2 linked regions of the Homo sapiens genome follow. The protein of the gene in region 1 interacts with the protein of each later gene in a pairwise test. Each region holds a gene or a part of one and is shown on either strand. Other genes may lie near its edges.

Region 1 (7,020 bases):
GAGTAGCTGGGATTACAGGTGCCCACCACCATGCCCATCTAATTTTTGTATTTTTAGTAGAGACAGAGTTTCACCATGTTGGCTAGGCTGGTTTCGAACTACTGACCTCAAGTCATCCACCCGCCTTGGCCTCCCAATAAATTTAAAACCTCCATAGTGCAGATTAAATGCTGCTCCCAAACCCAGAACAGGGCTTGAACCCACGGAAAACTCAGTACATGCTATAGGGATGACTGGCTTGTTCAGGTCCCTCCCCAGTTTCCTTCCCCATCCCCACCTCTCCTAGACTTCCCCTTCACAACCCATCCCTACTTTTCCAGCCACCTCTGCCTACCAGGGTTCAACCCTCCTGCAAATGAAAAGCCTCCTTCATTATATTAAAACAAAGCCTCTCCAAAGTCAGCCAGAAGACAGCTTACAGGGGACCCACGCTGTGGGATCCATCTCCCACTCCTCCAGTAGTGTCTCCTCTTGCATCTCACTTTGCCTTCTGCTGCCTGGCTATCAATCAGACCTAACTAACAGGGAAGACTTCATCTCGCTATGTCACTCAGGCTGGAGTGCAGTGGCACAATCACGGCTCACTGCAACCTCCGCCTCCCAGGTTCAAGTGATTCTCCTGCCTCAGCCTCCTGAGTAGCTGGGACTACATGTGGGCGCCACCACGCCCAGCTAATTTTTGTATTTTTAGTAGAGACGGGGGTTTCACCATGTTGACCAGGCTGGTCTCGAACTCCTGACCTCATGATCCCCCCCACCTCAGCCTCCCAAAGTCCTGGGATTACAGGCGTGAGCCACCATGCCGGGCCAAGACTCTTTTAATCCCCATTCCAGTATAGGCAAAGCCCCCCTTTCCCTTCATTCCCCTGAGATATATGAGATAGACAGCATTTATAAAAAGAATTTTAATAGATACTCCAGAATCAACAGGAAAAAAATTGGCAAGTATCACAGCAATAGTTCATGTTCTAGAATAGGGGTTTCTAATGATACAATAACTTCACTCAGGCCCCAGGGAGATAGGACAATATCAGACTGCCTTCTTCCCCGGTCTCTGCCAACCTAACAGCTTCTGATTTCAGGACACAAAATCTAAGACTTGCCAGGTTCAAGGCCTCCACCCCCAAAGCAAAGCAGTTTGGATGACCCACCTTCCATCAGAGCCAAAAGTCCGGTTGATGGACTGAGTAAGTATACTTGCCCAGGCCCCAACCTCTCCAGAGCAGACTCGAGTCCCTCAGGTAAAAGCTTTCTCGGCCAGGCGCGGTGGCTCACACCTGTAATCCCAGCACTTTGGGAGGCCGAGGTGGGTGGATCACCTGAGGTCAGGAGTTCGAGACCAGCCTGGTCAACACAGTGAAACCCCGTCTCTATTAAAAATACAAAAGTTTGCTGGATGTGGTGGCACGCACCTGTAATCCCAGCTACTCAGAAGGCTGAGGCAGGAGAATCACTTGAACCCAGGAGGTGGAGGTTGCAGCAAGCCGAGATCACACCATCGCACTCCAGCCCAGGTGACAGAGCAAGGCTCTGTCTCAAAAAAAAAAAAAAAGCTTTCTCTCACATCTGTCAAAAGTCCCCCATAAGCCACAGGTGAATGCCACACAGGTACAGAGCAACTGAACCAAAGCCTTACTCCCCCAAGTCATGAATCCCTCACCTCCTTGAGCCGGGCAATAGCATCTCCTATCTCTGGGTGCCCCATCTCATCCTCAGTCAGCACCCTAACGATCTGGGAGAAGTGCTGAACGAAATCCTGCTTTTCTTGGGCATAAACATCTGAATTCTGGTCTCCGTTCATTCTGAGGGAGGAGCAAAGGGCTCTAAGTAGAAGAAAAACAAGTCAGAAACCTGATCAGCTGCTCCCCTCCCCAAGGCCCCTCACCCCAACCACACTCACCGAGGTTCCTCTGTCCACGCTTGGCACCAGCAGCGGGCACTGTGCCAGGCCAGGACTGGGTACCCGTGCACCAGGGAGGGCCGCCGTAGGGAACCCAGCCACCTCTCCCGGGGTGCCCAGTAGGGGGCTGGCAGCAGGAAGACCCCCACAGATCTCAACCAGCGGGACAGGGGCATCCTGGGAGTGGCATAGGGAGGGGGCACTAAGCACTCCCTGCAGGGGCAAGCACCAAAGGCAGAGGCATGGTGGCAGCTCCCCAGATAACTCCCACCCCAGCCTTAGCCCAGAGTGCCCCTCCCTCTTGTGGAATGTGCTTGGGGACAATTACAGGAAGGATACGCAGGGAACAAAAAAGTATGGCTGGGTGACTGAGACCCAACTAATCACCACTTACAATAAACAGGCTAGAACTCAGTGCCTTCAAGATGGCGTGCACAAGGCTGGGTAAGGAGGCGGTACAGAGTAAAGTACCCCAGGATTAGGGGCTGAAAGGACCCTTAAGTCATCCTATTTTACACAAGCCAAACTGAGGCTCTAGGAGGTAGGAAGATAGTAGAGGCAGAGCCAAATCTAGAACCCAGGTCTCCCCTGGGCAGTGGAGAGGGGTGCCCAGGGTCTGAGTTACGCCCCAAGGAGGAAAGAAGCATTGGAGCGAGAACCCATGGGTGCTGCATCCATATGGTCCGGGGTGCTTGAACCGCGCGTCCCAAGCCCCACAGGAATCGCTAGGACTGAGCAGATAGGCTCGGAGCAACTCTGGACGGGAGAGAAGGGCTCGCAGCAAAGGAGTAAACCGGGGTCCGGGCATATTGGGGATTCCAGGAAAGCACAAGGGCAGAGTTGGGAAGTCTCCACACCCCTAGAAGGCCAGCCAGTCTAGCCCACCGACCTTCAAAACGGACACAACAGGCTGGCCTTCCGATGCCTCACAGTATCGTTACAGAAGTAAGGCCCGGTCTCGGCCCCCTTCCTCCAAGGCCCAGCACACATCCTCTCTCACCTGTTCCCAGATACGGATTCCTGCTCGGTCCCGCTTGTTGGCGGGTACTCCTAAAAGCAGAATCCGCTCCGCGATCGGCTCTGTGGGTCGAGTAGTTCCCGCTCTCCCCACACTAAGGGCGGAAATATATAATTAGACTACAACTCCCAATGTGCCCGCGGGAGGGACAGATAACGCGATCCTGCGTGTCCTGGCTGGGCGAAGATGAGCCGCGCTGATTGGCTGCTGGCCGTCGTGTGAGCATGGCGCACTGTGGCACTGTGACGGACGACCAATGGAAGGGCTGAAGTCTAGAGGTCGCGGCTGGAGGCGTCAGTGCCGGAAGCGAGCCAGGCTGGGAACGTCCCCGCTGTGGCTTTGGCTGCCTGTCTTACTCAAGTTTTCATTATCTTCCTGGGCAGCTGATTGGCACGTTAGTAAAACGCAGCAGGACTAGCTTTCTCACTTATTAGTTCTCTAACTTTAGGCAAATCATTTAACGTCTCTGATCCTCAGTGAACTTGCTTGAAACTAGCTTTCCTCATCTGTTGAATGAGGGTGGTAATACCATGAGGTAATGTGTGCAAAGTGCTTTAAGGGCTTAAGAAAGATGAGTCTTGGGCCGGGCACGGTGGCTCACGCCTGTAATCCCAGCACTTTGGGAGGCCGAGGCGGGTGGATCATGAGGTCAGGAGTTCGAGACCAGCCTGACCAATGTGGTGAAACCCCGTCTCTACTAAAAATACAAAAAAAAAAAATTAGTCGGGCGTGGTGGCGCGCGCCTGTAATCCCAGCCACTCAGGAGGGCTGAGGCGGGAGAATCGCTTGAACTCGTAAGGCAGAGGTTGCAGTGAGCTGAGATCCAGCGAACCACTGCACTCTAGCTGGGGAGACAGAGCAAGACTCCGTCTCAAAAAAAAAAAAAAAAAAAGATGAGTCTCACACTTGTAATTCCAGCACTTTGGGCGGATCACCTGCGGTCAGGAATCTGAGACCAGCCTGGTCAACATGGCAAAACCCCTTCTCTACTAAAAATACAAAAATTACCCAGGTGTGCTGGTCCGCGCCTTAATTCCAGCTACGTGGGAGGCTGCAACCTCGCTTCCCGGGTTCAAGTGATTCTCCTGGATTACAGGTGCCTGCCAGCATGCCCAGCTAATTTTTGTGTTTTTAGTAGAGAGGGGGTTTCTCCAGATTGGCCAGCCTGGTCTCGAACTCCTGACCTCAAGTGATCCAGCCACCTCGACCTCTGAAAGTGCTGGGATTACAAGTACGAGCCACTTGGCCCAGGCAGTTATTTATTGATTATAAGCTAAACAAGGGTTGGATTATTCATGCCTCTGCTTTGTAGACCATATACAGTTAACTCCCTGATGTCGACACAGCATGTGGTAGGAGTATAGCGTTGAAGACCACCAGAGGTCACTCTTGTTGCCATCTTGGTTTTGGTAGGTTTTGGCCAGTTTCTTTACTGCAATCTGTTTTATCAGCAAGGTCTTTATGACCTGTATCTTGAGCCAATCTCCTATCTCATCCTGTGACTTAGAATGCCTAAACCAACTGGAAATGCAGTCCAGTAGGTCTCAGCCTTATTCTACCCAGTCCCTATTCAAGATGGAGTTGCTCTGGTTCACGCACCTCTGACAATTATGCTAAGTGAAATAAGCCAGACTCAAAAGGACAGATACTGTATGATTCCGTGTATATAAGGTACTGTCACCGGTGGAGGGTGTCCAGGTTCTTGGCATCTTGAACAAAGAATTGGACAAAACACGGCTGGGTGCAGTGGCTCACGCCTGTAATCCCAGAGCTTTGGGAGGCCAAGGTGGGCGGATCACGAGGTCAGGAGTTCAAGACCAGCCTGGCCAACATAGTGAAACCCCATCTCTACTAAAAAATCCAAAATTAGCCCAGCATGGTGGCGCACACCTGTAGTGCCAGCTACTCGAGAAGCTGAGGCAGGAGAATCGCTTGAACCCGGGAGGCAGAGGTTGTGGTGAACCGAGATCGCTCCGGGAGGAATGAAACAGGAGGAATGAACAACTCCAGATGCGCGGCCTTAACAGCTGTAACACTCACCGCGAAGGTCTGCAGCTTCACTCATGAGCCAGCAAGACCACGAACCCACCAGAAGGAAAAAACTCCGAACACATCTGAACATCAGAAGGAACAAACTCCGGACACACCACCTTTAAGAACTGTAACACTCACTGCGAGGGTCCGCGGCTTCATTCTTGAAGTCAGTGAGACCAAGAACCCACCAATTCCGGATACATAAATCTGCATGTGTGAGTGTGGATATTGTGTGAGTGTTAGAGTGGAGTACGTATTTGTGTGTGTGTGTGGAATGGTGGGGAGCTTTGTGTATGTTTACGTGTGTGTATGTGTCTGACCAGGGGGCACCTCGTCTGTTAAGCTGCCCTGACCTCCTTCTGCCCTCACTCACAATGCTCTGTCTCTCCTGGTGTCCCTCTGTGTGCTGAGCACAGTTCTGTCAGTGCCCCCCGACTTCCTTTATTAAACCTGACTGGCCTCGCTCCTGTCTCCATCCCCACACTGAGCAGAGACCTGGGCCCAGTGGCCTCACCTCCTCCAGTCTGGCATGCGTCGGGGCACGGCCCATATGGGGGTTCAGTCCATGCCTGTGGAATGAAAAGCCACCTGCGTTTGTGTCTGTGCATGTGTGAGTGTGGCTGTTGGAGCATGTGTGTTTGTGGCAGGAGGGAGGGCTCTCAACTGACAAAGCTGAGTGTTGTGTTTGGATGCTGGGCTTCTGTTTCTCACCCACAGGCCTCTTGCTCAGGGATGATCCTGTGACAAAGTGCAGACCATGCTTCATGTGGTCACTTGTGGACCAGGGTCAGCCAGACTGCTGAGGAAACTGGCCTGATTTCAGGTCAAAGTGTCTGTCCCTTAGCTGGACAGGACACGGGCTGCTTTGGAGAACTGCCCCCCACCTCCTGCTAATCCCTTGGGACTGGGATATCTGGGATTCCTATCCTCCCAACTGGTTCTGGAGTCAGTTCAATATTGCCAGACCACAGCTGGGCGTGGTGGCTCATGCCTGTAATTCCAGTACTTTGGGAAGTGAAGGCGGGTAGATCACTTGAGCCCAGGAGTTCTGCACCAGCCTGGACAACGTGGTGAAACTCCATCTCTACAGAAAATACCAAAAAAAAAAAAAAAAAAATTAGCTGGGCATTGTGGTGCGTGCCTGTAGTCCCGACTCCTTGGGACGTTGAGGTGGGAGGATCACCTGAGCCCAGGAGATTGAGACTGCAGTGAGCAGAGATCATGATACTGCATTCCAGCCTGGGCTACAGAGGAAGGCCCTGTATCAAAAACAAAGTAATGCCAGACCATCCTTAAAGTCCCATGTCTCTGCCAACACCACAAGCACAAGGCCTGAATCCCCAGTCCCTGAAGTCTGCCACATTCTCTGTGGGTACAAATTTTGTCTCTCTTTATTTGTTGTGTCTTCTATATACAGAAAGATGAGGCCCCATGCTCATTTCCCTCCGGAAGTCCTCTCTACTATCTCTCTCTTTCTTTTCCAACTCCAGAGTCAGAGACTTCTCCCTTTCCCACCCACTGAAACAGTCCCAAGGGGCAGGCATGGAGCTTAGTGGTTACAGCTCGGGCTCTGGAGCTCCACTATCTGGGCCTGAATCCCAGCTCCACTCCTGACAAGACTTTTTGCATCAGACAAGTGTATTCGGTAGGGTTTCTTCAGGAAATAAAGAATTCTCTTAAATGGGATAATTTGAAGGTGTTTCATAACAGGATTATACAAAGGAATGGGCAGGGTGTTGGTAAACCACAACGGATAGTGCATTACCCCAGATCTAATAACAGTGGGCTTTGTTACCCCTGTAAGGTCCAAGGGATAGGGAGAGAATGGTCCCTAGAATGGCAACTGGGGAGGTAAATGCTCAACCTCACCCTCTCCATCTCATCTCCTATGGGTGCCACTCTCCAAACCCTACAGACGCCACTGTGCAAAGCCGTCAGCCTCCTGGCCCCACAGCAGAGTGGAAAAGGAACACACCTTGCTACGGCCCAGTTCCCTCATCTGTAAAACAGCCTGTTGATCCTACCTTCTTTCTAGGTTGTCACAATGATAAAAGGAGATGGTGTCCAT
Region 2 (16,291 bases), about 120 Mb from region 1:
AAAACCTGTGACCAGAGAATCTGTGAAATAAAATACATAAATCTCTACCCCTTGGAAAAAAAAAAAAAAAAATTCCAAAAGATGCAGTTACAAGTGTGCTTCTCAGAACAGGAGCATTCATTCCACTTCATACTCTGGCTTCTCCACCTTCTGGCTTCAAGACAGTTTGTCCCTCGGCTAGGGCAGAGAGGTTCATATGGGCACTTGGGCTCGGTGCACCTTGGGCTCTGGGGGTCGAGGGGCAGGCTGCAGTATGGGAGCGGGGGGAGCCACACTCATCTGAGGTGATGTCTGGCACATCGTCTGACTGTGCATCAGAACTCTCTAGGTCACTGCGGATGCTTTCAGGCTGGGCCAGGCTGATGTCCCAAGGTTTGCTGGCCAGGCAGTCTTTCTGTTCACAGCTTTGGTGTCTGCAGGGGGGATCCTCTTCACTGCCTCCGCCACCACTACCTTCTTCTTCATTCTCTGCCATCTGAGCATGAACATGGAGCGAGTCCTCCGTGCTGCTTCCACTCACCAGCTGATAGTGGCTTGGTTTGGCTTCAATGTCCACTTGGATTTCCATATTGTTGCATTCTCTGTGGAGACAAAATCCACTTTGCTGAGTCATGCATGGATCATGCTAAACCTGTTGGTAAAAGCAGTTCATGGGTTCAGGATTAGGAATTTCAAAAAGATAGGTGAACAGTTAACTAGAGCTCACTTTTAACAAAAATAACATTTTAATCTAACACTCAAATGAGATGGAGGCTGGACGTGGTGGCTCATGCCTATAACCCCAGCGCTTTGGGAGGTCGAGGTGTGAGGACTGCCTGAGTCCAGGAGTTTGAGACCAGCCAGGGCAACAAAGTCAGACCCTGTTTCTAAAATAAAAAAAATTAGCTGGGCATGGAGGCACGTGCCTGTAGTCCCAGCTACTCGGGAGGCTGAGATGGGAAGATCACTTGAACCCAGGAGTTCAAGGCTGCAGTGAGTTATGATTGTGTCACTGCACTCCAGCCTGGTTGACAGAGCAAGACCCTGTCTCTAAAAAAACAAAAATAAAAATAAATGAGATGGAGAAGAGTAATTAGATCCTTTTTGCTGATTTAACTATACATGCACACGTGTGCTCAGATGCACACACACGTGTATCTCAGCCAATCTCTTTAAACATACAGAAAGAGCTTCCAAAATTCAACTAAGGGTCAGAGCCCCATGCTAGCTTACTCAAAATAGAAAAGTAAAAGCTTTTTACTACCATGCCACAAGTAGAAGAAGCCAGAATACCTACTAGTGGGAGTACCACAATCACACCATCCCAGATACACCAGTTTCTCAAAATGAAAGAGAAAGAAGCTATGGGAATCCTATCAAGCAAAGGGCAAGCAGAAACCCTAGACTTGAAGACATCAATGAACATCAATCTAGCTCTTTAAGTTCCATGTAATTATACACTGTTGCAATAGCCAAGAAAGACAAAAAAAAAAAAAAAAAAAAGAAAAAATACATAAAAGGAAGAAAGAAAAGAAATCTCTAAAAATCAAGCGCTAACAAGAAGAATCAAGAGATGCCAAACACTCAAGTACCAAGAACTTGCTCAAATGAATTCACAGGTTACACTATATATCCCAGGAGATGGTACATACAGCCCTAACATGAGGCATTGAACTTCTGAAGACCTAGTACCCAACGAAAAAATGCAACCTCTCCTGGACATCTGACTGTTCACATACCTGTCCTGTGGGTTGTAGGAACTGATTATGGAACCGGCCATAGCACGAGTGCTTGCGTTGTCACTAATTGCACCAAGACTGGCTGTGTCTTTGGGGAAAATTTCCTTTTGGACATCGGCTTGAACTTCTAACCTGTGTAAAGAGGGGACGTTCAAGTTAATATGAGACCTGGGTATTCCAAGACAGTCTGCTTCCTGGCACACATCTCTTCCATTACTCTCTTGCAAATTGTGGTTGTCTGTCTGATCTTCTCCAACTGTCAAACAGCGCAAATAGATGCCCATACATTTTTTCTCTTAAATATCTATTGAAATCGTCCCCTCCTTTCTATCCCCACAGCTACTGCTGAACTTCAGGTTTTCATCATCTCCTGCCTGGATGACTAAAACTGGGCTCCCTCTCCAGTAGCCCTTAAGTCCAAGTCAAACAACCTCTAGAACAGTGCCAGTGTGAATAAAGACCCAATCACTCTAACAATTCTCTAACTCTTGGCTCCCTACTGCCAACAGGCATTAAGGTCTTCCTGATCTGCCAGGAAGCTCTCTGTCCAGTTCTATCACTCCCTATAGATCCGAAATCATAGTCACTCTGAATTCTTTCTTTCTTTAAATACCTATACATTTTATACTTCCATGACTTTGCACATGCTATTCTGTCTCTCTAGAAATTTCCTTTCTCTACCAGACAAACTTATACTCAGTCCTTAACAACAAAGGAACTATCACTTCCCCTCATTATCCCAGCAAACCATTCACTTCTTGCTAAGTACTCCCACAGCACCTGCCTACTTATTTATTATTATTTGTTTTTAGAGGGAGTCTCACTCTGTCACCCAGGCTGGAGTGCAGTGGCACGATCTTGGCTCACTGCAACTTCTGCCTCCCAGGTTCAAGCGATTCTCCTGCCTCAGCCTCCCAAGTAGCTGGGATTATGGGTTCCCACCACCACACCCAGCTAATTTTTGTATTTTTAGTAGAGATGGGGTTTTACCATGTTGGCCAGGCTGGTCTTGAACTCTAAACCTCAGGTGATCACCCACCTAAAAAAGGTGCTGGGATTACAGGCGTGCGCAGGCCCTGCCTACTTATTATTATGCATCTCTCACTTGTCTGTTAACTCCACAAAAGGAGAGACCACAACTCATACACACTTTACCTTCCCTGCCTTGCACATAATAGGAAATCAAACATTTAACAATCAAATTACCTCCAGGGAATGAGACTGAAGGACATACAGGAGCCAACCTCTTCCCTCCTCTTGGAGCAGCAAACTTTCCCAATAGTGTCTCAGAGCCCATAACTATTGCCTTTCTTGGCTCCAACATCACTTTGTTGCACAGTTAAGTATTTCCTTATAATGGGTTTCACAGTCAAACCCATCTGACTCATTCACTTCCTATAAAATAAAGGCTTTCACAGAACTAGAACAGCTGGACTGGCTAAGCTGCAGTTTCAGCAAGTCAGTCTCCAATTATGTCTGTCTGCTTATTTACAGGGGTGTTGGTTTTAAGAAAGCACAGCAGTGAATATGCCAGCATGTGGGGGCGGGATCCCCTGATAAGAGACAACCAGAGTCATGAGATGCACAGACGGGTCAGTAGCAGCCTGCAGCTGCACATTCAAGCAGCTTCCATCCTACTGCCTGAGCCTTTGCTTTGCTGCTCCAGCTTCAGGTGCCCTTCAAAAATGTGCCAAGGCCCAGGGAAATGAGGGAATGCAATGGAAAGTGCACAGTGTCAGAGACCTGGCTTCTAGTTTCAGGTCTGCCACAGAATCACTCTGAGTTGGAAGAGTCTTTCAGAAAGGGCTCCTACTTAGGTGGTTGTCAGATGCTGGTTCATGCAACGGCTGTGCTAGAATTACCTGGGGAGCTTTTGCAAAACACGGATCACCCCCTAGGTGCCACTCCAGGAAATTCTAAGCTACTCATTCTGGGATGGGTCCCTGAAGTCTATTTTTAAGAGGCTCCCAAGTGATTGACAGGCACTCAGGTGGGAGATCCAGTCCACCTGCCATCTGTTGCTTGAATCCTTCTTATAGCCAAATAGCCATCTGGTCTCATTGTAAACATTTCCAGGGATAGGCAGCTCAGTATCTACTAAAGTAGCCTTTTTCCTCTTTGGGCTTTCATGTTGCTTTTCCCTATATTCTCTATACTGAACCAAAATTAGTTTCCCTTTAGCTTCTGCCAAGTCATCTTAATCTACCTTTTGGTATGAGGCATAGAAGTCTAATCCTTTTCACAGTTGAAGGTCCTTTGGATAGCTGAAGGCAACCATCTCCTCTACCTTCCTATCCTGCTTTGTTCTACCTTTACCCCTCCCTAGGCCTTTCTTCTCCGTTGCATTCAACTGCTTCTCAGGCAACATGTTATGCTCCTCTGAAAATATACACTCTGGTCTGCCTAACTAGTGAAATGACCAAGCAAGTCACAATCTTTTTAGTTACAAAGCTTTACATATTTTCAACACAAGTACATAGAATTGATTTTCCTTATCTAGCAAATGGAAATAGAAAGGTAATAAGGATTGCAGTATCACTAAACCAGCTGGGGGCAATGGTTCATGCCTATAATCCTAGCACGTTGGGAGCCAAGTTGGGAGGATGGCTTCAGGCCAGGAGTTTAAGACCAGCCTGGGTAACCGAGCAAGACCCCATCTCTACAAAAAATTTAAAATGTTAGCTGGGTGTGGTGTGTGCACTTGTAGTCCTAGCTACTCAGGAGGCTGAGGTGGTAGGATTGCCTGAGTCCAGGAAGTTGAGGCTGCAGTGAGCCATGATTGTGCCACTGCATTCCAGCCTGGATGACACAGTGAGAAAAAAAACAAAAAAAAATCCCCAAAGCCCACTATCAATAAACCATGATGGGCTGGGTGTGGTGGTTCATGCTTGTAATCCCAGCACTTTGGGAGGCTGAGGCGGGTGGATCACAAGGTCAGGAGCTTGAGACCAGCCTGGCCAACATGAAACCCTGTCTCTACTGAAAATACAAAAATTAGCCAGGCATGGTGGTGCACGCCTGTAGTCCCAGCCTCTTGGGAGGCTGAGGCAGGACAATCACTAGAACCCAGGAGGTGGAGGCTGCAGCGAGCCAAGATTGCACCATTGCACTCCAGCCTGGGCGACAGAGCAAGACTCCGTCTCAAAAAAATAAAATAAAATAAATAAGCCATGATACAGCATAAATGCTACTGAAAGCCAATGACAAGCCTAACGGAGAGCATTTTACGAATTCTATAAAAATGCCTACTCTCCCTTCCTGAAGCAGGCAGCCTCAGGCAGTCAAGGGGGAATCTCAAGTCAGGATTATTCTTTATATAGAGGCAGCTATGGTGCAATGGAAAGAACAATGAACTTTGCATAACTGACGTAACCTTTTTTTCTAAGCTTGTTTCCTATTTGTAAAAGTAAAAAAAAAAAGGCCTGTCGCAGTGACTCATGCCTGTAATCCCAACGGTTTGGGAGGCCAAGGCGGGCGGATCACGAGGTCAGGAGATTGAGACCATCCTAGCTAACATGGTGAAACTCCATCTCTACTAAAAATACAAAAAATTAGCTGGGCGTGGTGGCGGGTGCCTGTAATCCCAGCTACTCAGTAGGCTGAGGCAGGAGAATCGCTTGAACCCAGGAGGCGGAGCTTGCAGTGAGCCGAGATCACGCCATGGCACTCCAGCCTGAGCCACAGAGTGAGACTCTGTCTTTAAAAATAAAAAAGTAAAAACAAAACAAAACAAAACCATTGACAATTAAATCAAAATAAGATGATACGTGGCACAAGCCTGGCACAGAGAAATGGCTCAATGTGTTACTTCTTATAATTCTAACCATTTCTGTCAGAAATTATCTATTTGTTTACCTGCTATATTTTCCCTTGCCACTGGAGAGAATGCCGCCACTCAGCGTGCCCCCTGAGAGGGCTGCAAAGCTGGCCGTTTCGCTGTAAGGACCTTGCATAACACTAAGTCCATCTGTAGGGCTTCCACTAGTGCTCAATACACTAGTCAGGCCTTCAATGCTGCTTTCCCCAATGCTGGGATTCTTGAGGGCTCTCCAGGCATCTGCCACTGGGGATAGAACCAAACATCCAATTCAAGACAGCAGAGCATCAAAACAGTCAGTAGGCATTTTCCTGCAATGACTTTTCAGAGAACTAATGTATTTACTTAATGAACAGGTACTGTGTGCAGTCGCCACATATCAGGTGTTTTAACATATGTTCATATTTAATCCTCCAAATAACTAGGCATTAATAGCCTCAATTTTAGATGAGAAAACTAAAATTTAAAACTAAATGACTTGTCCAAGGCCATGGTAGTTACATGAAACTATAACTCTGATTCCAAGGCCACTATTCTTTCCACTACACTGTTGCTTCCATGTAACCAAACGTGAAGATTTAAAAAATATGTTTGGGTCATGTGCTGATTTTAATAGGAAGCTTCTAGTAGAAAGCTAGAAAAACCGGCCGGGCGCGGTGGCTCACGCCTGTACTTCCAGCACTTTGGGAGGCCGAGGCGGGCGGATCACGAGGTCAGGAGATGGAGACCATCCTGGCTAACACGGTGAAACCCCATCTCTACTAAAAATACAAAAAATTTAGCCGGGCGTGGTGGCGGGTGCCTGTAGTCCCAGCTACTCGGGAGGCTGAGGCAGGAGAATGACGCGAACCCAGGAGCCGGAGCCTGCAGTGAGCCAGGACCATGCCACTGCACTCCAGCCTGGGCAACAGAGCAAGACTCCGTCTCAAAAAAAAAAAAAGAAAAGAAAAAAGGAAGCTAGAAAAACCTTTGGGGTTTTCTACGTTACTTGTGCCCTACGTTACTTACTACGAGTAGAAACCACATTAAAGTAAAAGTCAGAAGACTTGCCCTAGTCTCAGCTCTGTGAAGCTCTTAATAGATAGTAAGATGAAAGCTTAAAGAAATTCCCATTTAGGCCAGATGTGGTGGCTCACACCTGTAATCCCAGCACTTTGGGAGGCCAAGGTGGGCGGATCATGGGGTGAGGAGATCGAGATCTTCCTGGCTAACACGGTGAAACACCAAACCCCGTCTATACTAAAAAAAAAAAATTAGCCAGGCGTGGTGGCACGTTGCTGTAGTCCCAGCTACTCAGGAGGCTGAGGCAGGAGAATCACTTGAACCTGGGAGGCGGAGGTTGCAGTGAACCGAGATCGCGACATCGTACTCCAGCCTGGGTGACAGAGACTCCGTCTCAAAAAAAAAAAAAGAAATTCCCATTTAAATGGGGATAACAGCTCCATCCTCCCTCGTCAGAGAGCTGTTTGTTGTAAAAAGCAAGTGAGATAATTGTGTAAAATACTCTGAAAATTATCAAGTACTGTGCAGATATAAAGATGTTATTATAATCACTACTACTACCAGCATACTTGGAGTTACTTGGATTCCTACTAGTTTGTACCTGCCACACAGAGGCAAGTACCAGGGGAATTAACCTAATAACTTTGGAACAAAGAAATGAAAAGCTAAAAATACTTTACCCCCTACAAAGCTCATTATCCAAAGTAATCCAATGACAATCTCCCTGTAAAATGCGCTGAATTTTACTGATTTTTATCTTGTATATCATAAATTCAAATGGAAATAAACATCCTGCTTTTTACCTGTGATTGGACCATCATCTTCATCAAATTCAATTTTCACTCCTTTTCCGTTGGCTGTGCTAACTCCACAGCCGCCTCCACGACAAAGAGAAATGGGCACAACCCCATAAACATATGCCAGCATAATGGGGACACCAATACCTGGGGGAAGAGAAGGAAACATGTCAGCTGGCTATTAGGTTGCAAGTGCCCTGAATTCTTCTTCCCAGTCTGGGCATGGACAAACCACTTTATAAAGAAAGGAAGACAGAAAGTGGCTATCCCAAAAAGGTGGCCTGGTGTAACAGAATGATGACCAGGCTAGAAATCAGAAAGGTCTGGATTAGATTCTTGGCTCCATTTACTAGCTGTATAACCTTGGACCTATCTTCCCAGGGTTGTCAATAATCAAATGAGAATGCTATGTACTGTGTTTTGCACAGTAAATATATGTTGCTTTCATTTTCCCCTCTTCTAATCACTGCTGAAATGCTAACCCAATCAAGAGCCAATCAAGAATCAAATATTAAATAAGTGACTACTGCTTGGAGTTTAGGATCTCCTCAGGATGTTAATTCCAAAATCTTACTGCTGTGTGAGGTAGAATGGCTTAGCTGTTAAGAGAACAGGATCTGAAGGCAGATTAACTTGATTCATGTCCCAGCTAAGTGACCTTGGGAAAATTACTGCACCTTTCTTTTTTTTTTTTGAGACGGAGTCTCACTCTGTTGCCCAGGCTGGAGTGCAGTGGCACGATCTCGGCTCACTGCAAGCTCCGCCTCCCAGGTTCACGCCATTCTCCTGCCTCAGCCTCCCAAGTAGCTGGGACTACAGGCACCCGCTACCACACCCGGCTGATTTTCTGTATTTTTAGTAGAGATGGGGTTTCACCGTGTTAGCCAGGATGGTCTCGATCTCCTGACCTCGTGATCCGCCCGCCTCGGCCTCCCAAAACACTGGAATTACAGGCGTGAGCCACTGCGCCCAGCCAATTACTGCACCTTTCTATTAAAATTGTGCTTCCTTTTGTAAGGATTGTGAGGATTAAATAAATTAATATATGCAAAAGTCTCAGAACCACTCCTGGCACATGAAGAGCCACATTAAATGTTAGTTACACTATTATTATTCTAAAACAAACTCTTATGCCTCCCAAAGTAATGTGAAGCATTAAACAAATCAAAACAAAAGTAATTTTGTTTTGTGGATTTCATGGCAAGTAGAGAAGGAAGATGAAAGGTGAAAACTAGGGCTTAAAATAAGTTTCTGTAATTCAACCTTTTCTATGTGCCAAATGGAGTTCTAGGCACTAACTTAAGAACAAAAGATTGCACACTCTGATAATTTGGTGTGCTTGAAAAACTTAAAAATAATCATAATCATGGTGCCTAACAGAATTTACTATCAAGGTGGGTTCGCATAAAATGTAGGAGTCTTTGAGAAACATCTGGCCATCTGGCTAAACTGCTATGGTCAGAAAGCTGAGAGAGAAGAGGTGTGGTCCTGACTAGCTTACCAACACTAACTGCAGCAATAACTGGGGATGCAATGACCGACAAAGTCACTCCTCCAGTGATAGCCAAATTCCTCTTGTGTTTGGAGGTTTTCCTTCCCTCATACCTGCTGTGAATCTAAGAATAAAAAAAGAAAATCCAGGTCAGCAGGTTAGGACATCAATCTTTTGCCAGAGAAAAAAAGGACAGGTGAATATTCACTTGTAAGTTATCTATATTAAAACATATCCTCTACCCCAAATAGGCATCTTTATCAAATTTTAACCTAACTCAGACCTGGAAGATATAAAGTAATACAGGCAAAGTTAATCCAAAAAGAGACAAAATAACTCCAGCAGAATGAAGTAAGCATTTTACCTTCTTCTTTTATTTTTTTTTTTGGAGTCTGTCATGCAGGCTGGAGTGCAGTGGTGCGATCTTGGCTCACTGCAACCTCTACGTCCCTGGGCTCAAGCAATCCTCCCACCTCAGCCTCCCTAGTAGCTGGGACTGTAGGCACATGCCACCATACCCAGCTAATTTTTCTATTTTTTTGGGTACAGATGGGTTTTGTCATGTTGCCCAGGCTGGTCTCAAACACCTGGGCTCAACTGATCTACCTGCCTTGGCTTCCCAAAGTGCTAGGCCACGTATTACAAATGTGAACCATCATGCCTGGCCCAGCATTCTACCTTTAAGTCACTGAGACAAGCCAGGCCCAGGATGTTAATAAGAACTTTCAGATCTCATGGGGGTTTATGAAAATCCATTTAAGAAAGTAAGGTTATTTTTATCTAAGAACCAGCTGGTTTTCAGGCAGCTCTGAAACATAGCTCCTTCCCATTTCCCTCAAACCTTTACTAACGAACCTAAAGTTGAAACAAGCACAGAAACCAGCATGTCTTTCTTACCTTCCTTCCAACATAAACAGGAATGCCAATGACCATGGCAGGAATGGCAATGCCAGCAATGAGAGAAATCCCCACTGGAGCACCAATCAACGTGCCCAGCTGCCAAAGAATTTTCTTCTTACGGCTCCATGGCTTCTTGCCCCAGAATGTACAGCCAGAGGGGCTGCAGGGGAAACAGACTGAAGTTAATGTCAACATTACAAATACAGCTAGTATTATCATAGGGCTTGATAACAGCAACAGCCTTCTTTTCAGTAAGGATTAACAGAAGAGTTTATGGGAAATGAATACATTACACAAGGGAGAGCAAAGGACAAGGCCAGACTATTAGAGCTCTGGGCTCTTTAACTTTTTTGGTTGTTGTTGTAAAGACAGGCTTCCAGACTTGAAATTCCTTTTCCATTCTTCTCTGCTGAATTCTGTCTTCCCTAACCCACCAAAACTGATCTAGCTTCCATGACTGACAATACTTGGGATGCTGCATAGCCTTATGCACTTGACATCCCATCCAGACACACTGCACCCTGCACTAATGAACACTCTGATTTGTGTAGTTTTCTTGGCATATGTCCTACCATACCTAATAGATACTGCAAACCATGTTCGTGGGAGAGGATATAAAAAGACCTCATCATAACCTTTCTATCAGTTTGGTATTCTGAGTTTGGCTACTTTTACAGTCAGCCCTTCTGTGCCCAACCATTTTTGCCCATTCTCTTTGTGCTATCTTCTCCACTAGAAGGGATAAACAATTTTGAAAATAGGGATCATGTCTTACTCACCCCTATGTCCCCAATGACTAGCACACAGTAAGTACTCAAATGTTCGACAAATTGGCAATGAAGGTGTTGTGTTTCATTTACACAATGAATGTTTGTTTGTAAATATTAACACATTTTGTTTATTTGTAAATATTAGCAAACATTTTGTTTGTAAATATTAACTCCTCCACAACATTTTAATATTCACTCAATGAGGCTGGGCGCGGTGGCTCGCGCTTGTAATCCCAGAACTTTGGGAGGCCGAGGCAGGCGGACCACCTGAGGTTCGAGTTCGAGACCAGGCTGGCTAACATGGTGAAACCCCGCCTCCACTAAAAATACAAAAATTAGCTGGGCATGGTGGCAGGTGCCTGTAATCCCAGCTACTTAGGAGGCTGAGGCAGGACAATCACTTGAACCTGGGAGGTGGAGGTTGCAGTGAGTCGAGATCGAGCCACTGCACTCCAGCCTGGGCGACAGAGAGAAACTCTGTCTTAAAAAAAAAAAAAAAAAGAATTCACTTAATGAATTCCTTGGGAACTCACTAAATGCAAAAAACTGTAAAAAGGTCACAACTCTAGCCTCAAGATACTTACAGTTTAGTAAGATAAGATAGGTACGTGAAGTGTAAAGTACTGACGATATTTATGACAAAAGATAAAAGAAAGTCAAAGAATGAGGCGGAAAAAGGAGAGGCAACATGGATGAAAGGCATTTAAGTGGCTCTTAAAAGATAAGAACTGAACAAGTTGAGATAAAAGGAGGATACTGGAAGGTAGGCAGAAAGCATTCTAGGCAAAGGAAAGAACATGAACAAGTATGGAGGCAAGACAGCAAAAGGGAAAAAGCAAGTCCAGACTACCTGTAATATGGCAAGCAAAGAAAGGTAGAAACAGAATAGTAGCTGGTGAAAACATGATTAGAGGAGCATGTCAGAAGAAGTTTTCACAGCTTCCTTAAACCTGTAATGAGAGAACGGATGTGTCTTTTTGACATCCTTTTCCCTAAATCAGTAAGAGAATGAGACTACGAAAGGAATGGATGCATTTCCCATCTTACCTGAGGTAATGCAAGTCTGAGATCTCTTTCATACAAAGCCAACAGAATTCACAGCCACACACTGCACAGGTCATGTGATTACAGCTTCCATCATTCATCTTGATAATGTATGCACTGCATCGTGGGCATGGCTTGATGTCATCTGCTATGAGTGGGGGAAGAATGGGTAGAAAAAATACCCCTAGTTAAATCCAGTTTGATTTAATTGTTCCTAGGAGTATATATAAGAAATGAGGCAGCAGTCAAGAACTCTTCACTGAACACTCCAAATTGTACAACCCACTTTACTGGAAGGTTGGCTATGTCTAGACCTCAGGAATTTTCATAAAATGAATCCTGTCTCTTATTGAGCTGCCTATCCCAACAACTGGCATCTTACACAGCACTTGAACCACATTCTAGCAAGGAGATTTCCTTAGGGAGAAAGATGTTTCCAAGAAAAATGAAATTTCTACCAGTCGATAGGCTGGTAGATTTAAAAGAAGAATCCTACAGAAAGAATAGCCTGCAGCCTGGAATTAGCTTTACATTTTTAAAAACTTTAGTTTGGGAAATTTATTTTTCAGGTTCAACATGTATCATTGTGATTTGCTGTTAACATAGCCCACAATCCCTTCCCATGATACTTTCAAATTCAAAACCTAAAAACAACTGGGTATGCTATCTACCATATACTTGGTAATTTTCAGAGCAAGTTATGAACTATCCTAATAAAATGACAATTTAGGAAATTATGCTGTGCCAGGAAAAAGTGAATGGCAAAATCTTTCCTACTAGCCTCTCCCAAATGACATCAGCAAAATAAAAGTACAAAGCAATAAATCCACTGACATTTTAAAATAGGTTTCCTCTGACTCGCCAAGGTTGGAGCTGAATGTGTGACATTCCTCCTTTTAAGGTTAATCATTAATCTATACTAATACTGTTTCCTTTTCTTCAATCTGTACTCTACTTCCAAAGGCAGTGAGGCACTTAAGTCAGCTTGAAGGCAAACAGCACAGGTTTAATACTAATTAAATGTCTTTCTGTTCACAATGAAAGTTTTGAAAAAGCCCCTAGCAAAACAAAATGAACTAATTGCTCTCCAATCTGAGACATATTACTAAGAAAGTAGGAACTACATAATTCAATTTTGTTGCATTTCAATTTTATATAGTTGGATAACCTATAATGGTCAGAGAGGGAAGTGCTATCTTTATTATAATATTGAAAGTATTATCAAATGATATTTTCTGCTCTCTGATCCTTTGGAGTACTTGGGTTATACAATAAGATAATTTCTTTCAGCTATGGGCTCACATCATGAAATACCAAATAAAGAGACAATGAGATAATGCCAACTTATACCTGGTCCAGATTCTTGCCCATAACTGAGACCTGAAGTGTGTTTGGTCCGAACTCGTAAAGTCTGGGCCCTCTGTTGACGGGCCATATCGCATGTCTGATTTGGATGCCATATCTGCTTGCAGTGGTAGCAGAACTCAGTCTGGCAACCTTCCCTCTCACAAGTTAGCTTCGGGCAGCTGGCACAGCCATAGGCAATAACAGCATAACTAGGTAAGGAAACAGTAAGAGATACCAGTAAGGTAAGAATGATCTAACCAAAAGAGACATTATTCATCAGAGTTAACAATGTTTGGCACTACCCCACTATCACATATGATACAGAGAAAAGAATACACATACACACATATACACACACAAGCACATTTGACCAACTGTAAAATATATCCCATGTGAGAAAGTAAACTTTTTTTTTTTGAGACAGTCTTGCTCTGTCACCCAGGCTGGATTGTGGAGTGCAGTGGTGTAATCTCGGCTTACTACAACCTCCACCTCCCAGGTTCAAGCAATTCTCCTGCCACAGACTCCCTAGTAGCTGGGATTACAGGTGCAAGCCACCACGCCTGGCTAATTTTTTTTGTATTTTTAGTAGAGATGGGGTTTCACCATGTTGGCCAGGCTGGTCTCAAACTCCTGACCTCAGGTGATCCACCCGCCTCGGCCTCCCAAAGTGCTGGGATTACAGGCGTGAGCCACCATGCCTGGCTATAAATTTCTTGAGATTCCAAAAACACAAATCATTTATTTACTTTAAAAAGTGGAGGTGGAGTATCTTATTTATCCTGGATTTCCAGCATTTATTCAATCATAGCTGAAGCTGCTTTAGGAGTAGTTTGTCATAATAAGTTTCATAAATAACAGGGTACAAAACTATTTCCTTTTGATAGTTTGCTATATTTAGAGAGATTAGTATTTGTTTATACGAAGGAAGAGGACATTAGTGAAATAAAGAGCTATGGCAAAAACTAAAGTTTATTTTTTAATTCCTTCTTTTTTTTTTTTGAGATGGGGTCTCACTGTCACCCAGGGTGGAATGCAGTGGCTCACTGCAACCTCCGCATACCAGGCTCAAGCAATCCTCTTGCCTCAGCCTCTAGAGTAGCTGGGACTACAGGTGCGCACCACCACACTTGGCTAATTTTTGTAATTTGCATAGAGATGGGGTTTCGCCCCATTGCCCAGGCTGGTCGCAAACTTCCGGGCTCAATCAATCAGCCTGCCTCAGCCTCCCAAAGTGCTGGAATTACAGGCATGAGCCACCATGCTACCTTTTCATTCTTTTTTTTTTTTTTTTGAGATGGAGTCTCGCTCTGTCGCCAGGCTGGAGTGCAGTGGCGCGACTCGGCTCACTGCAACCTCCGCCTCCCGGGTTCAAGCGATTCTCCTGCCTCAGCCTCCTTAGTAGCTGGGACTATAGGCATGCATCACCATGCGCAGCTAATTTTTGTATTTTTGTAGAGATAGGGTTTCACCATGTTGGCCAGGATGGTCTCGATCTCTTGACCTTATGATCCGCCCTCCTCGGCCTCCCAAAGTGCTGGGATTACAGGCGTGAGCCACTGCACTCAGCCTTTTTCATTTTTTTTCTTCAAGTAAAAATTGTTTTATTGTCATTAACATATTTAATATAAAAAGAAATGAAGCAAATGGCTCAGTGTTGTATTTTTTAAAAAATCCAGGTTTGTGCAGGTTACTCTATTTACATCTGGGAGCAGAGCTGTCCCCACGTCAGGCATAGCAGTTGCACTTCTCCAACGCCCCTTTGCAGATGCAGCCCTGGGCACACTTGGCACAGCCCACGGGGCAGCAGGAGCAGCAGCTCTTCTTGCAGGAGGTGCATTTGCACTCTTTGCACTTGCAGGAGCCGGCGCACATGCAGGAGCCACCAGTGGCACAGGAGCAGTTGGGGTCCATTTCGAGCAAAGGAGATGCTGGAGCTCCCACCGGTGAGGCCAACAAGCAGTCAGGCAGTTGGAAAGCATGCTGCCTTTTTCATTCTTAAGTTCCAGTTCCACAGTGAAGCTGGTCTGACCATAGTCACAGAGACAATAAACCCTAAAGACTTATGATCAGCATCCCTCTTGAAAGCTCATCTTATCTTTCCATACTTTTTCAATTCAAACCTATACCTTGAAATGTCTTGATAGGCTCCAGAATCCAAGAATACCAGGCCTCTATCTTATAAATTAAAATAGCATTAAGGCCATACCTCCCTTTCTCTCTTCTGACACATATTCTTTTTTTTTTTTTGAGACAGAGTCTCACTATATCGCCCAGGATGGAGCGCAGTGGCGTGATCTCGGCTCACTGCAATCTTCTCCCAAATTCAAGTGATTCTCCTGCCTCAGCCTCCCGAGTAGCTGGGATTACAGGCGCCCGCCACCACGCCCGGCTTTTTTTTTTTTTTTTTTTTAGTAGAGACAGGGCTTCACCATGTTGGCAAGACTGGTCTTCAACTCCTGACCTCTGGTGATTTGCCTGTCTTGGCTTCTCAAAGTGTTGGGATTACAGGTGTGAGCCACTGCACTCAGCTGTGACACATATTCTTCATGTAAAGATTCAGAATTTATCAGCACTAATGTCGACCATTTCTTGTAGTTCATGTTCATTTACCAAGAATTAGTCTCACACAAACAATCCAATATATTTATATAACTATTAGCCTTTCTGATTAATTCCAAATATGTCAATTAAGCGCTCAGATTACTCTAACAAGAAATATAATACTTGTATAAAATAACATTTTAGCCAGGTGAGATGGCTCATGCCTGTAATCTCAGCACTTTGGGAGGCTGAGGCAGGAAGATCGCTTGAGGCCAGCATTTTTAGACCAGCCTGGGCAACACAGCAAGACCTTTTCTCTTAAAAAAAAAAAAAAAAAAAAAAAAAAAAAACAGCCTGGCGTGGTGGCTCACACCTGTAATCCCAGCACTTTGGGACACTGAGGCAGGCAAGTCACAAGGTCAGGAGTTCGAGACCAGCCTGGCCAACATGGTGAAACGCTGTCTCTACTAAAAATACAAAAAATTAGCTGGGCATGGTGGCGGGCGCCTGTAATCCCAGCTACTCAGGAGGCTGAGGGAGGAGAATCGCTTGAACCCGGGAGGTGGAGGTTGCAGTGAGCAGAGATTGCGCCACCATGGGTGTCACTCCAGCCTGGGTGACAGTGTGAGACTCCATCTCAAAAAAAAAAAAAAATCAGCCAGGTATGGTGACACAGGCCTGCAGTCACAGCTACTTGGGAGGCTGAGGTGGGAGGACTGCTTGAGGCTGGGAGGTTGAGGCTCCAGTGAGCCACGTTTGCGCCACTGCACTCCAGCCTGGGTGACAGAGTGAGATTCTGTCTAAAAAAAATAATAAATAAATAAATGGAAAGTTATGAAAGTTAATCACACAATTTTTTT

What was found.
Region 2: the proteins of FDPS (region 1) and RNF19B interact in binary tests that used the Homo sapiens proteins (3 or more experiments, as listed by UniProt).

The regions. Positions count from the first base shown.
Region 1 is NC_000001.11:155,304,846-155,311,865, reverse strand, and holds the start of FDPS (farnesyl pyrophosphate synthase), read right to left. Parts: upstream 3,001-7,020; 5' UTR 2,901-3,000; exon of another isoform or gene 2,790-2,900; intron 2,078-2,789; 5' UTR 2,077-2,077; coding exon 1,901-2,076; intron 1,824-1,900; coding exon 1,661-1,823; intron 1-1,660. UniProt on the Homo sapiens protein: Key enzyme in isoprenoid biosynthesis which catalyzes the formation of farnesyl diphosphate (FPP), a precursor for several classes of essential metabolites including sterols, dolichols, carotenoids, and ubiquinones.
Region 2 is NC_000001.11:32,936,679-32,952,969, forward strand, and holds part of RNF19B (E3 ubiquitin-protein ligase RNF19B), read right to left. Parts: intron 15,132-16,291; exon of another isoform or gene 14,802-15,131; coding exon of another isoform or gene 14,616-14,801; exon of another isoform or gene 14,530-14,615; intron 13,097-14,529; coding exon 12,891-13,096; intron 11,689-12,890; coding exon of another isoform or gene 11,686-11,688; coding exon 11,544-11,685; intron 9,887-11,543; coding exon 9,724-9,886; intron 8,951-9,723; coding exon 8,836-8,950; intron 7,482-8,835; coding exon 7,341-7,481; intron 5,782-7,340; coding exon 5,574-5,781; intron 1,851-5,573; coding exon 1,719-1,850; intron 632-1,718; coding exon of another isoform or gene 610-631; exon of another isoform or gene 582-609; coding exon 128-581; 3' UTR 1-127. Other genes in the region: metallothionein-1E-like, read right to left, coding at 14,616-14,801.